Linked DNA regions of Homo sapiens: region 2 is linked to region 1. A link means that fine-mapping ties the variant in region 1 to the expression of a gene that starts in the linked region. Tissue or cell type: monocytes after LPS. Region 1 holds a variant in brackets; the other region holds the start of a gene. All regions are shown on one strand. Distances are between the middles of the regions.

The links. PIP is the estimated chance that this variant, and not a neighbour inherited with it, causes the effect.
Region 2: DIP2B starts here. The variant in region 1 is fine-mapped to the expression of DIP2B in monocytes after LPS (Fairfax 2014, PIP 0.91).

What each region holds. Positions count from the first base shown.
Region 1 is chr12:50,699,857-50,705,006 of GRCh38, forward strand. It overlaps DIP2B (disco interacting protein 2 homolog B), which reads left to right. Exons shown (of 38, transcript NM_173602.3): 20 at 4,284-4,364. Among named protein-coding and RNA genes, the nearest start is that of ATF1, 62 kb to the right of the region's middle. The variant T/TAAAA (reference allele first, on the strand shown) is at 2,878.
Region 2 is chr12:50,502,406-50,507,555 of GRCh38, forward strand. It overlaps DIP2B (disco interacting protein 2 homolog B), which reads left to right and starts at 2,580. Exons shown (of 38, transcript NM_173602.3): 1 at 2,580-2,835. The coding sequence starts at 2,736. RefSeq lists a silencer at 2,883-2,992.

The DNA.
Region 1 (5,150 bases):
TGTCTCAAACACACACACACACACACACACACAACAAAACCAAAAAAAAAAAGGGTAAGAGGCCTCACAAAAATTCACTGTGGTGAATTTGCCATGGTTTGAGCTTTGTAAATTCAAATTTAATTTCGAGAGTAAACTCCAATTATGCTCAGTTACTAATTAAAAATGAAGACTGTCCTTTCACAGGAGTCAGGTTGCTCATATTATTCAGTCTTTCAGTCAGACAAATATTTTTTGAGCACCTTTAATGTGTCTGGCAATGTTCCAGATGCTTGGGGTGCATCAGAAAACAAAACAAAACTCCTTGTGGAGCTCACGTTCTTGTGGGGCCAGCACATTCTAGCTAGACTCGCACACGGTTTTCCTGCAGGCACTTCTGCATGCGAAGCCAGGTTGTAATGGAAACTTTGCCTAGTGAACCTGGAAGTCAGAACAGGGGCGGTTAATTGTCTACATTTAATAATTGGAATTAACCTGTCTCAGGATACATTTTAGGGACGAGAGAAATTCAGGTGGCAGCCACATCCCTCTTCACACAAGACAGAGCTTATATAAGCACTCCTATTTTTCAGTTCTTTGAGCTTCTTTTTCTATAATCTAGACTAGTGATTCCCAGGATGGAAGGTTACAGGCATCTACTGTCCCACTTGAAATCAGTGCATGTGATTACATACTAACAGATGTAACTTCAGAGAAAGTATCATCTCTGTGATACCATATCTATGCTCTCCATGATGTGGTACCTGAAAAGGGCTAAGAGCTCCTGGGCTGAACCTTATCTTTGTGTTTACCCAACCTAAAATGGCTTATATCACTTACTAAATGTCTTTCTCATAACTATTACTACTGTGCTCTTGCCCAGCCTTCAAAAGCTGTGTGCAATTCACCATGCCAGGAGTGGGCATTCATAAGCTCTTCAAGCATGTGTTTACTGCCAGTCTCTTGGTTTACTTTCCTAGGTGATTGATTTACCTCCCTTGAGTGTATATACATTTAACTAATTTAAATCTCACCCTATTTATTTCTGTCACCCAGGCTGGAATACGGTGGCTCAATCATAGCTCACTGCAGCCTTCAACTCCTGGCCTCAGGTGATCCTCTCATCTTGGCCTCCCAAAGTGCAAAGATTACAGGCATGAGCCGTTGCGCCTGTAATTTTTCTTCATTGACTTTTCCTTACTAAAAACAAGAGCCTCAAGCAGTGTTTGAAGATACTGATATTTTATTTCATTACCTTTCCAATGAGGCAGTTCACTAGCCAGAATTCTCAGACTTAATACCAAACTGCTAGGTCCATAGTGTTGAAGAAAATTTAAAATCTGCATTATAAATTTAGTGATAGTGAAGTAGAATAAAAATTGTACCAGAAAAGGACAAAGCTAGTATCTGGGTTTTCCAAATTAAAGTTCCCAGTATTTTTCTTACTGGCTTCTTAAATTTAAATCCTGAGAGAGTTTACCAATGTAGTTAACATTTCACTGGAGAAAAGATCTAGGTTTTAAATTTGTTTTGTGGTTTGTTTTTTTGTTGTTGTTGTTGTTTTTTAGGTGGGGTCTTGCTCTGTCGCCCAGGCGGAGTGCAGTGGTGCAATCTCGGCTCACTGCAACCTCTGCCTCCCGGGTTCAAACAATTCTCCTGCCTTAGCCTCCCAAGTAGCTGGGATTACAGGTGCCTGCCACCACGCCTGGCTAGTTTTTTTGTATTTTTAGTAGAGATGGGGTTTCACCGTGTTGGCCAGGCTGGTCTTGAACTCCTGACCTCAGGTGATCCACCCTCCTCGGCGTCCCAAAGTGCTGGGATTACAGGCATGAGCCACCACACCAGGCCAAGATCTAGTATTGACTAGTCAGAAAATAAAAATATTTTATAGATAATGCTACCAGGGAGAAAAACTTTTGTGACATGTATGACAACAGTTGATTTTCCATCACTCCCATGTGCTAGCTATTTGAGGCAAGTGAAACTCACTTCATCTGTAAAATGGAAATACTAATGCTGTTTCTATAGGATTAATTTGAGGATTAACTGTAAAGCAAGTAAACCTGTTCCTGGTACTGATAAGCATTTAGTGTTGTTATAATTATTATTTTATATAAAAAATAAATTTTAAGAATTATACAGATGAGGCTGGGAGCAGTTGCTCATGCCTGTGATCCTCGCACTTTGAGAGGCTGAGGTGGGTGGATCACCTGAGGTCAAGAGTTCAAGACCAGCTGGGCACGATGGCTCACACCTGTAATCCCAGCACTTTGGGAGGCCGAGGCGGGCGGATCACGAGGTCAGGAGATCGAGACCATCCTGTGAATGGTGAAGCCCCGTCTCTACTAAAAATACAAAAAATTAGCCAGGCATGGTGGCGGGCGCCTGTAGTCCCAGCTACTCGGGAGGCTGACACAGGAGAACGGCTTGAACCCGGGAGGTGAAACTTGCAGTGAGCCAAGATTGTGCCACTGCACTCCAGCCTGGGCGACAGAGCGAGACTCTGTCTCAAAAAAAAAAGAGTTCAAGACCAGCCTGGCCAACATGGTGAAACCTTGTGTACTGAAAATACAAAACTTAGCCGGGTGTGGTGGCAGGTGCCTGTAATCCCAGCTACTCAGGAGGCTGAGGCAGGAGAATCTCTGGAACCCGGGAGGCGGAGGTTGCAGTGAGTCGAGATTGTGCCATTGCACTCCAGCCTGAGCAACAGAGCAAAAAACTCTGTCTTAAAAAAAAAATTATCCGGGTGCTGTGGTTCACACCTGTAGTCCCAGCTATTCTGGAGTGTGACACGGGGGATCACATGGGCCGAGGAGTTCAAGGCTGTACTGAACCATTATTACGCCTGTGACTAGCCACTGCATTCCAGCCTGGGCAACATAGTGAGACCTCATCTCT[T/TAAAA]AAAAAAAAAAAAAAAAAAAAAAAAGGAGGGGTGGGGAGCAGCTATCAGGTAGAAAAAATAGGTAAGAGACATGAATAGGCTACTCACAAAAGAAATACAAATGCTCGGCAAACGAAGGAAAAGAAATTCAGACATATTACTTATAAAATGCAATTAAAGCAATAATGGGATTAATGTCTACTGTCTTGAATTTAAAAAAATTTTTTTAAGTCTGAGTATGGTGGCTCACTCCTGTAATCCCAACACTTTGGGAAGCCAAGGCAGGAGAATTGTTTGAGGTTAGGAGTTCAATACCTCTGGACAATGTAGCGAGACCCATCTCTACAAACGAATTAAAAATTAGCTAGGCGTGGTAACCCGCACCTGTACTCCCAGATCCTTGGGAGGCTGAGGTGGGAGGATTGTTTGAGCCTAGGATTTTGAGGCTGCAGTGAATTATGATTGCACCATTGCACTCCAGCCTGGGCAACAAAGTGAGACTATATCTCATTTTAAAAAAAAAAAAAGATTTTTTTTTTAATAAATTAACAATAGGATATATTTTTCGGTACCAGATTGGCAAAGTTTGGAAAAATGGATAGCACATAGTACTAGCCAGGACATGGGAAGAACCAGACATTCTAGTATGATATTAATGAGTGTAAATGGATACGACAGTTTTATAGGCCAGCCAATTAAAATTGAAAAGACTCGTGCCTTTTGTACAGATGCATAAATGAATACAGCAATATTCATTAAAGCACCTTTATAATAGTGAAAAATTATAATGGCCTATCCAGCTGTAATAAAAGACTGGTTACATTCTAATAGCTACAATTTCCTGAATACTGATTCTGGGTCAGATACCGTACTTGTTTCTGCAAATCTTTTTGCATTCCTTAATCTTTACTCCAAGCCTGTGAGAGGCACAGAGTACTCCATTAAGTGGCTGCAAAACAGGGCTCAGAAAAATCCAGGCACTTGCCTAAAGTCTATGTTACTAGTAAGTGGCAGAGCCAGAAATTGAATTGACACCAACGACTATGCTGTCCTGTCCCCCATGGAGTGGCTGAGTGGGCTAAGTCAACTCTTACTAACTTGGAAGGGTATCTGAGATATATTTCGTGGAAAAGCAAGTTGCAAAAAGTATAATATCTGTTTGAAAAAAAAAAAAACTCAGCACATTTATTTATATATACATATTTTTTATATGTTTTATATATATATTTATATATGTATCTTCTTAAAAGTCTAGAGAGGTAAACAATAAATTGTAATTATTTCTTATCTCTAAAGGGATGGAATTACTGGATTCACTATTACATTATTTTTTCACTGAGCATGTATTTTAATAAAACTTTTTAAAAATCACATATACTTTCTAAGAAAAAGCAAAGTTTTTCACTTACTTCATTTTGTCTCTTAGGTAATTCCAGTGAATTCTGCAGGCTCTCCTGTTGGGGATGTGCCATTCATCCGATCAGGATTGCTGGGGTTTGTAGGGCCGGTAAGTGATGCTTTCATGTTGATTTTGTTACATTTGATCCAAATATTTGGACTTTAATTCACAGAACAGAACAAATTCTGATTAGTCCAAGAGTGTTACAGAACCACTTCACTTATATTTAAAGCAGTTCTTGTAAGGATGTCATAAAATGAGTTAGTGTTTATCATTTCCACTACCCAAGTTCATTTGACTCCTTCAAACTAAGACATTTTTTATTTTCTTTTTTTCCCCGCTGAGATCAGAAGACATGATGAGACTTTTTTTATTTTAAGAACTCTTTTCACTTATTCTCACTATCTCGCTCTGATTTGATTAACATGTTGCAATAAGTTAGAAGAGTGCTGGAAAAAGTTATCTTCAGTAGCAAAGACAAACTATAATACATAGTATACAGAGCATTTTCATGTAAATGATTGGCACTATGTGATGTGTAATAGTGATCCTTTGAGTGAAAACAGTTTGGGCCGGGTGTGGTGGCTCATGCCTGTAATCCCAGCACTTTGGGAGGCCGAGGTGGGCGGATCACCTGAGGTCAGGAGTTCGAGACCAGCCTGGCCAACATGGCAAATTCTGTGTCTACTAAAAATACAAAAATTAGCTGGGTGTGGTAGCATGTACCTGTAATTCCAGCTACTTGGGAGGCTGAGGCAGGAGAATCGCTTAAACCCAGGAGGTGGAGATCACGCCACTATGCTCCAGCCTGGGCAACAGAGCGAGACTTCATTTCAAAAAACAAACAAAAAAAAAACAAAAAAGTTTGTTATTCAGAACACAGTATTTATAGGT
Region 2 (5,150 bases), 200 kb before region 1:
GGCAGAGGTTGTAGTAAGCTGAAATTGCGCCACTGCACTCTAGCCTGGGTGACAGAGCGAGACTCTGTCTAAAAAAAAAAAAAACGGTGACACAGTATAAACATAGTATATTTTTGTTTGTTAATTTTTAAAAGTTTTTCTCCAAAAGCATGAGCCACCACACCTGGCCTCGGAGAAAAATTTAATGTTAAACTTTTAAAATAGTCACAGAAAGAATAGCAGTATAATCTGTACCTTCCAAACCAGAAGAACAAAGAAGTACTATCTAACACTTTACTAATTCAACAATAGGAGAAAAAGGGGGGGAAGAAAGCAAAGACAGAGATTGATAAACAGAAAACATTTAACAAGAATGAAGAAATAAGTCCTAATATATCAGTAATTATATTAAATGAACTTAAATGGATTTAATTAATTTGTTACAACCAGAGTCACAGACAAAAGTTGAAAATAAAAGACTAAAAAAAGTCAGCAAGTAGTAATTAAAAAGGCTGGTACAACAATAATATCTAGACAAAAAGATTAAGGTAAAGAATAAACAATTAGAAATAAAGAGAATATAAGGAATAATCTAGCAAAAAGGTAGAATAATTTGGTGGAAGAATGCAGTAAAGGCTGGATGAGGTGGCTTATGCCTGTAATCCCAGCACTTTGAGAGGCTGAGGTAGGAGGATCTCTCAAGTTTGTTCTAAGCTTCTATAATTTTAAATAAATGTTTTACTTTAGAATGGTTTTAAATTTACTGAAAAGTTGCAAAGATAGTACAGATAATTCCTGTGTATGCTTCATCCAGTTTTTCCTTTTTTTTTTTTTTTTTTTTTGAGACGGAGTTTCGCTCTTGTTGCCCAGGCTGGAATGCAGTGGTGCAATCTGGGCTTACCGCAACCTCCACTTCCCGGGTTCAAGCGATTCTCCTGTCTCAGCCTCCCGAGTAGCTGGGATTACAGGCACATGCCACCATGCCCAGCTAATTTTTGTATTTTTAGTAGACGCGGGGTTTCACCATACTGGTCAGGCTGATCTCCAACTCCTGACCTCAGGTGATCTGCCTGCCTCGGCCTCCCAAAGTGCTGGGATTACAGATGTGAGCGACCACGCCCGGCCTTGACTTTTTTTTTTTTTTTTGAAACAGTTTCACTGCGTTGCCCAGGCTGGAGCGCAGCCGCCATGTTCTCAGCTCACTGTAACCTTGGCCTCCCGGGTTCAAGCGACGTTCCTACCTCAGCTCCCCCAGGTAGCTGGGATTACAGGCATGTGCCACTACTCCCGGCTAATTTTTGTGTTTTTAGTAGAGACGGGGTTTCGCCATGTTGGCCAGGCTGGTCTCGAACTCTTGACCTCAGGTGATCCGCCCACCTTGGCCTCCCAAAGTGCTGGGATCATAGGTGTGAGCCACTGCACCTAGCCTTGGACCCTCTTCATATTAAATTAAAATTAATGTTTTTGGAACACCTATTAGGCCACAGAGTGAGGAGGATGAGTTAAAGTAAGTTCCCTCCTTGTAAGTAGTTAGAAGTATAGAAAGAAAGAAGTGGACCTGCTCTCTATTGTCTTTTTCTTTTCTTTAGACGGAGTGTTTGCTCTCTTGCCCGGGCTGGAGTGCAATGACGCGATCTCAGCTTACTGTAACCTCTGCCTCCTGGGTTCAAGTGATTCTCCTGCCTCAGCCTCTTGAGTAGCTAGGAGTACAGGCATCCGCCACCACGCCCGGCTAATTTTTGTATTTTTATTGGAGACGGGGTTTCACCATGTTGGCCAGGCTGGCCTAGTACTCTTTTTTTTTTTTTTTTGAGTCGGAGTCTCGCGCTCACGCTCAGGCTGGAGTGCAGTGGCGTGATCTTGGCTCACTGCAAGCTCCGCCTCCCGGGTTCACGCCATTCTCCTGCCTCAGCCTCCCGAGTAGCTGGGACTACAGGCGCCCGCCACCACGCCCGGCTAATTTTTTGTACTTTTAGTAGAGACGGGGTTTCACCGTGTCAGCCAGGATGGTCTCGATCTCCTGACTTCGTGATCCACCCGTCTCGGCCTCCCAAAGTGCTGGGATTACAGGCGTGAGCCACCGCGCCCGGTCGGCTAGCCTGGTACTCTTAACCTCAGGTGATCCACCAGCCTCAGCCTCCCAAAGTGCTAGGATTACAGGCGAGAGCCACCGCGCCTGTCTTTTTAAAAGCTAAAACTGAAACGGAAACAGAGCTCCTGGCAGATAGGACCAGGAGCCACAGCGAAGGAGGTGGCCTGTGATTAGGTTTTTATAAATGGGCAGGTATTAATCAGGGAAAATGGAGTAAAGGACACGATAGACATACATTGCTAAGTCTAGTATTGGAAAAAGTAAGGCCTGGGACCCCTAAAAACTTGCTCGAGAGTGAAAGGTAAATGCTATGTGTCCACACTACTGTGGTAAAGCCGACAGTCCATACCATGAGCCCATTTCGCGCAGGGAAATTCGAGTGGTGGGCTTGGGCCCGTCGTTCTGGTAGCTTCCCAGTAGAGGGCGCCGTAAGCATATGCGTCTTCAGCCTGACTGGGCTGGAGAGGCGGTGCGTCCTCCTGGCCGGGGGGCGGGGGCCGTCGCGCTCACGTGACCTTTGCTCATGGCGGCGGCGGCGGCGGCGGCGGTGCTGGTGGTGCTCGGCGGCCGGAGCCGGATCCTGTAGCCGGGTGTGGGCCCGTGTCTGTCCGTCCCTCCTTCGGCCCCCTCTCTTGTCTTCCGGAGTGTGGCTGGCGGAGCTGGGATGGCGGAACGAGGCCTGGAGCCGTCGCCGGCCGCGGTGGCGGCGCTGCCGCCTGAAGTGCGGGCGCAGCTGGCGGAGCTGGAGCTGGAGCTCTCGGAGGGTAGGAGCCGGGCCGGGGAGAGGGCGCCCGGGGCCCTGCGGATCGCGGCGACTTGGGAGACAGGTCCCCGCCGCGCGCTCTGGCGGCCGTGCGGCGAGGGGGACGAGGGTGTAGAGAACCTGGCCTGGCGCTCCACGACCGTTTTCCCTCCTCTCCCACCCCATTAAGTGGTTTCCTGTGGCTTTCATTGTTTTCCCATGGAGGGGACTAAGTAAGGGCTTGTGGAAAGGTCCTCCCGGGCCCACACTGCTTCTGCGCTTCCTGCCCCCCAAAACCCGAGACAAAGCTGCGCCCTCCCGCTTCTGCCCAGGCGTCTGGCCCAGGTGGGGTGAGGGGTAGGGCTGCGAGGAGGGTGGCTGACAGCTTTCTCCTTTCCTCTCCCCTTTTCGTGGAGGGCTCCACGCCTTGTTCCAGCCCCCCCTTCCCCCTTTCAAAAAGAGACACATGGGAAATCCGCAGCATCATTTCTTCTCTTTCCTTTAACAATGCGCGATGCCTCCCCAGTGACAGGAGTGAGACACAAGCGGGTGAGCCATTTAGGGTCCTAGGAAGATAAGAAGCAATGGCATTAACCCAGAGAGACACACGGTGCTGCTTTTAGACCACCTTTGTCATAAGAAGTTTTTTTTTTTCCTGGTGCCTGTTATTCGGGCCGAATTTTCCGCATCTGGTCACCTTTTGGAGTCTTTGATGAAGGAAGGAGAGGAGGCTACCGTTTACTTGCAAATCCTGGCTGGCATTCTTTCTTTTGACAATGGATTGGGACAGGGAGGGTTCGATTTATTTTCAGAATTAAAAAAAAAAAATGGGATAAATCAAGCCACTGTTATTAGAGAACTCCTTGTACAACAATGAGAGAAACACAGTGCTCCGTTGTGGGCATGTGATCAGGCTTCTGGGGCAGTTGTGATCAGTTCTGTGTAAAGTTCCTGTTTTTATCACTGGCTGCCCCTGAGACAAAAGCAGCATTTTCTCCAAGCTTGATACCAGTACTTTGATTGTGTCTCCAGAGTTGCATATTCTTACTGAGTTCCTTGTGGAAGGCCCTCTTCACTAGCATTTTTCAAGTGGATCAAAAACTCTTGATTGGAAAAGAAGAATGTGACCAACTCCCAGGAGCTTATTAAACATTACTTATTGTTTACTTATTAAGGCATTATGGTTCCCTCCCCTCTGAGAATCCTTTACAATGAAAAACCAAAAATAGAGTTGAATGTTATAAATCCTGTTGGGCACTGAAGGAAATAATTATTTTTAATAACCCTTTTAATAACCCAATGTGTAGGAAAGTGCTGTTTTTACCTGTACTTAACTATCAACATGTTATTTTTCAATTAATCCAATTTTCAAGTTATTCTTCGGCCAGTCCCGGGAATCACTGGTATTAGATTAGTTTGTTTCTGTGAAGTGTTTAAGAAGATAGGAATCCTCTGGGTTTGTCTGCCCAGTTATACCTTAAGTTCCCCCCGCTTCGAAAATCGAGGAGCTTTTTGCATTACCATCAATTCTGTCTCTCAAGATAACTCATTCTTCTCCTAGACTAAAGCATTGACATTAAATCTGTGTTGACTTGCATTAAAATCTGACTTTTAAAACTGCTATTTGAAAGTAACAAATCATCTAGCTTTGATTAGAGAGAGGTTTGCCTGGATGCTTGCGTCAGAGGGAGATTAAAAATAGGAGTTGATTGCTTTCACACGGAGAGGGAAATCCTGGAAGCTCCTTATTCTGGGTATATCTGCTTCCAGCTGATTGTTGTTTACATCTCTGGGTGTTTCTAGACATCTCTAGAATGTCTAGAAACATTCTGAGGAACTATTTCTAGGACCCACACTGATTAGCTCACCTCTCTCTCCTTCAGAAAGGTGTGAAACTTCTACAAATTGTGAATGCCAAGGCTTAAACATTTTAAGGACAAGTGCATGGTTTGCTTTCCAATGAAGGATTATTTTGGTTGGCATCTGACTTGGTTTGAATTTGTTTCTTATAGATATACTACACTTCTTGTATTTCATTTGTTTTAGCAATGGATGACTGGAAAAAATACAATTGAAAAACTTGGGCCTGCAGTGTCAGCATATTGGTCATCTTTCTTGCTTAAAGTACAGGGGATGGTTGGCTGGAGAAGTGGATAGACATTAGGAATTCAAGTGAAGTTAAAATAATCCAAAAGTCCCCATATCTGTGTAGTATGGTGTTATTTGTGATGCCTGTAGCATATTTGGAGCTAAGGTTTGTTCGTTTTGCATTTTCTCTACAGTTACTCTGCTCTAACATAAGTACTTTGTCTTTTTTTGTTTTAGATGCTTTTCTTT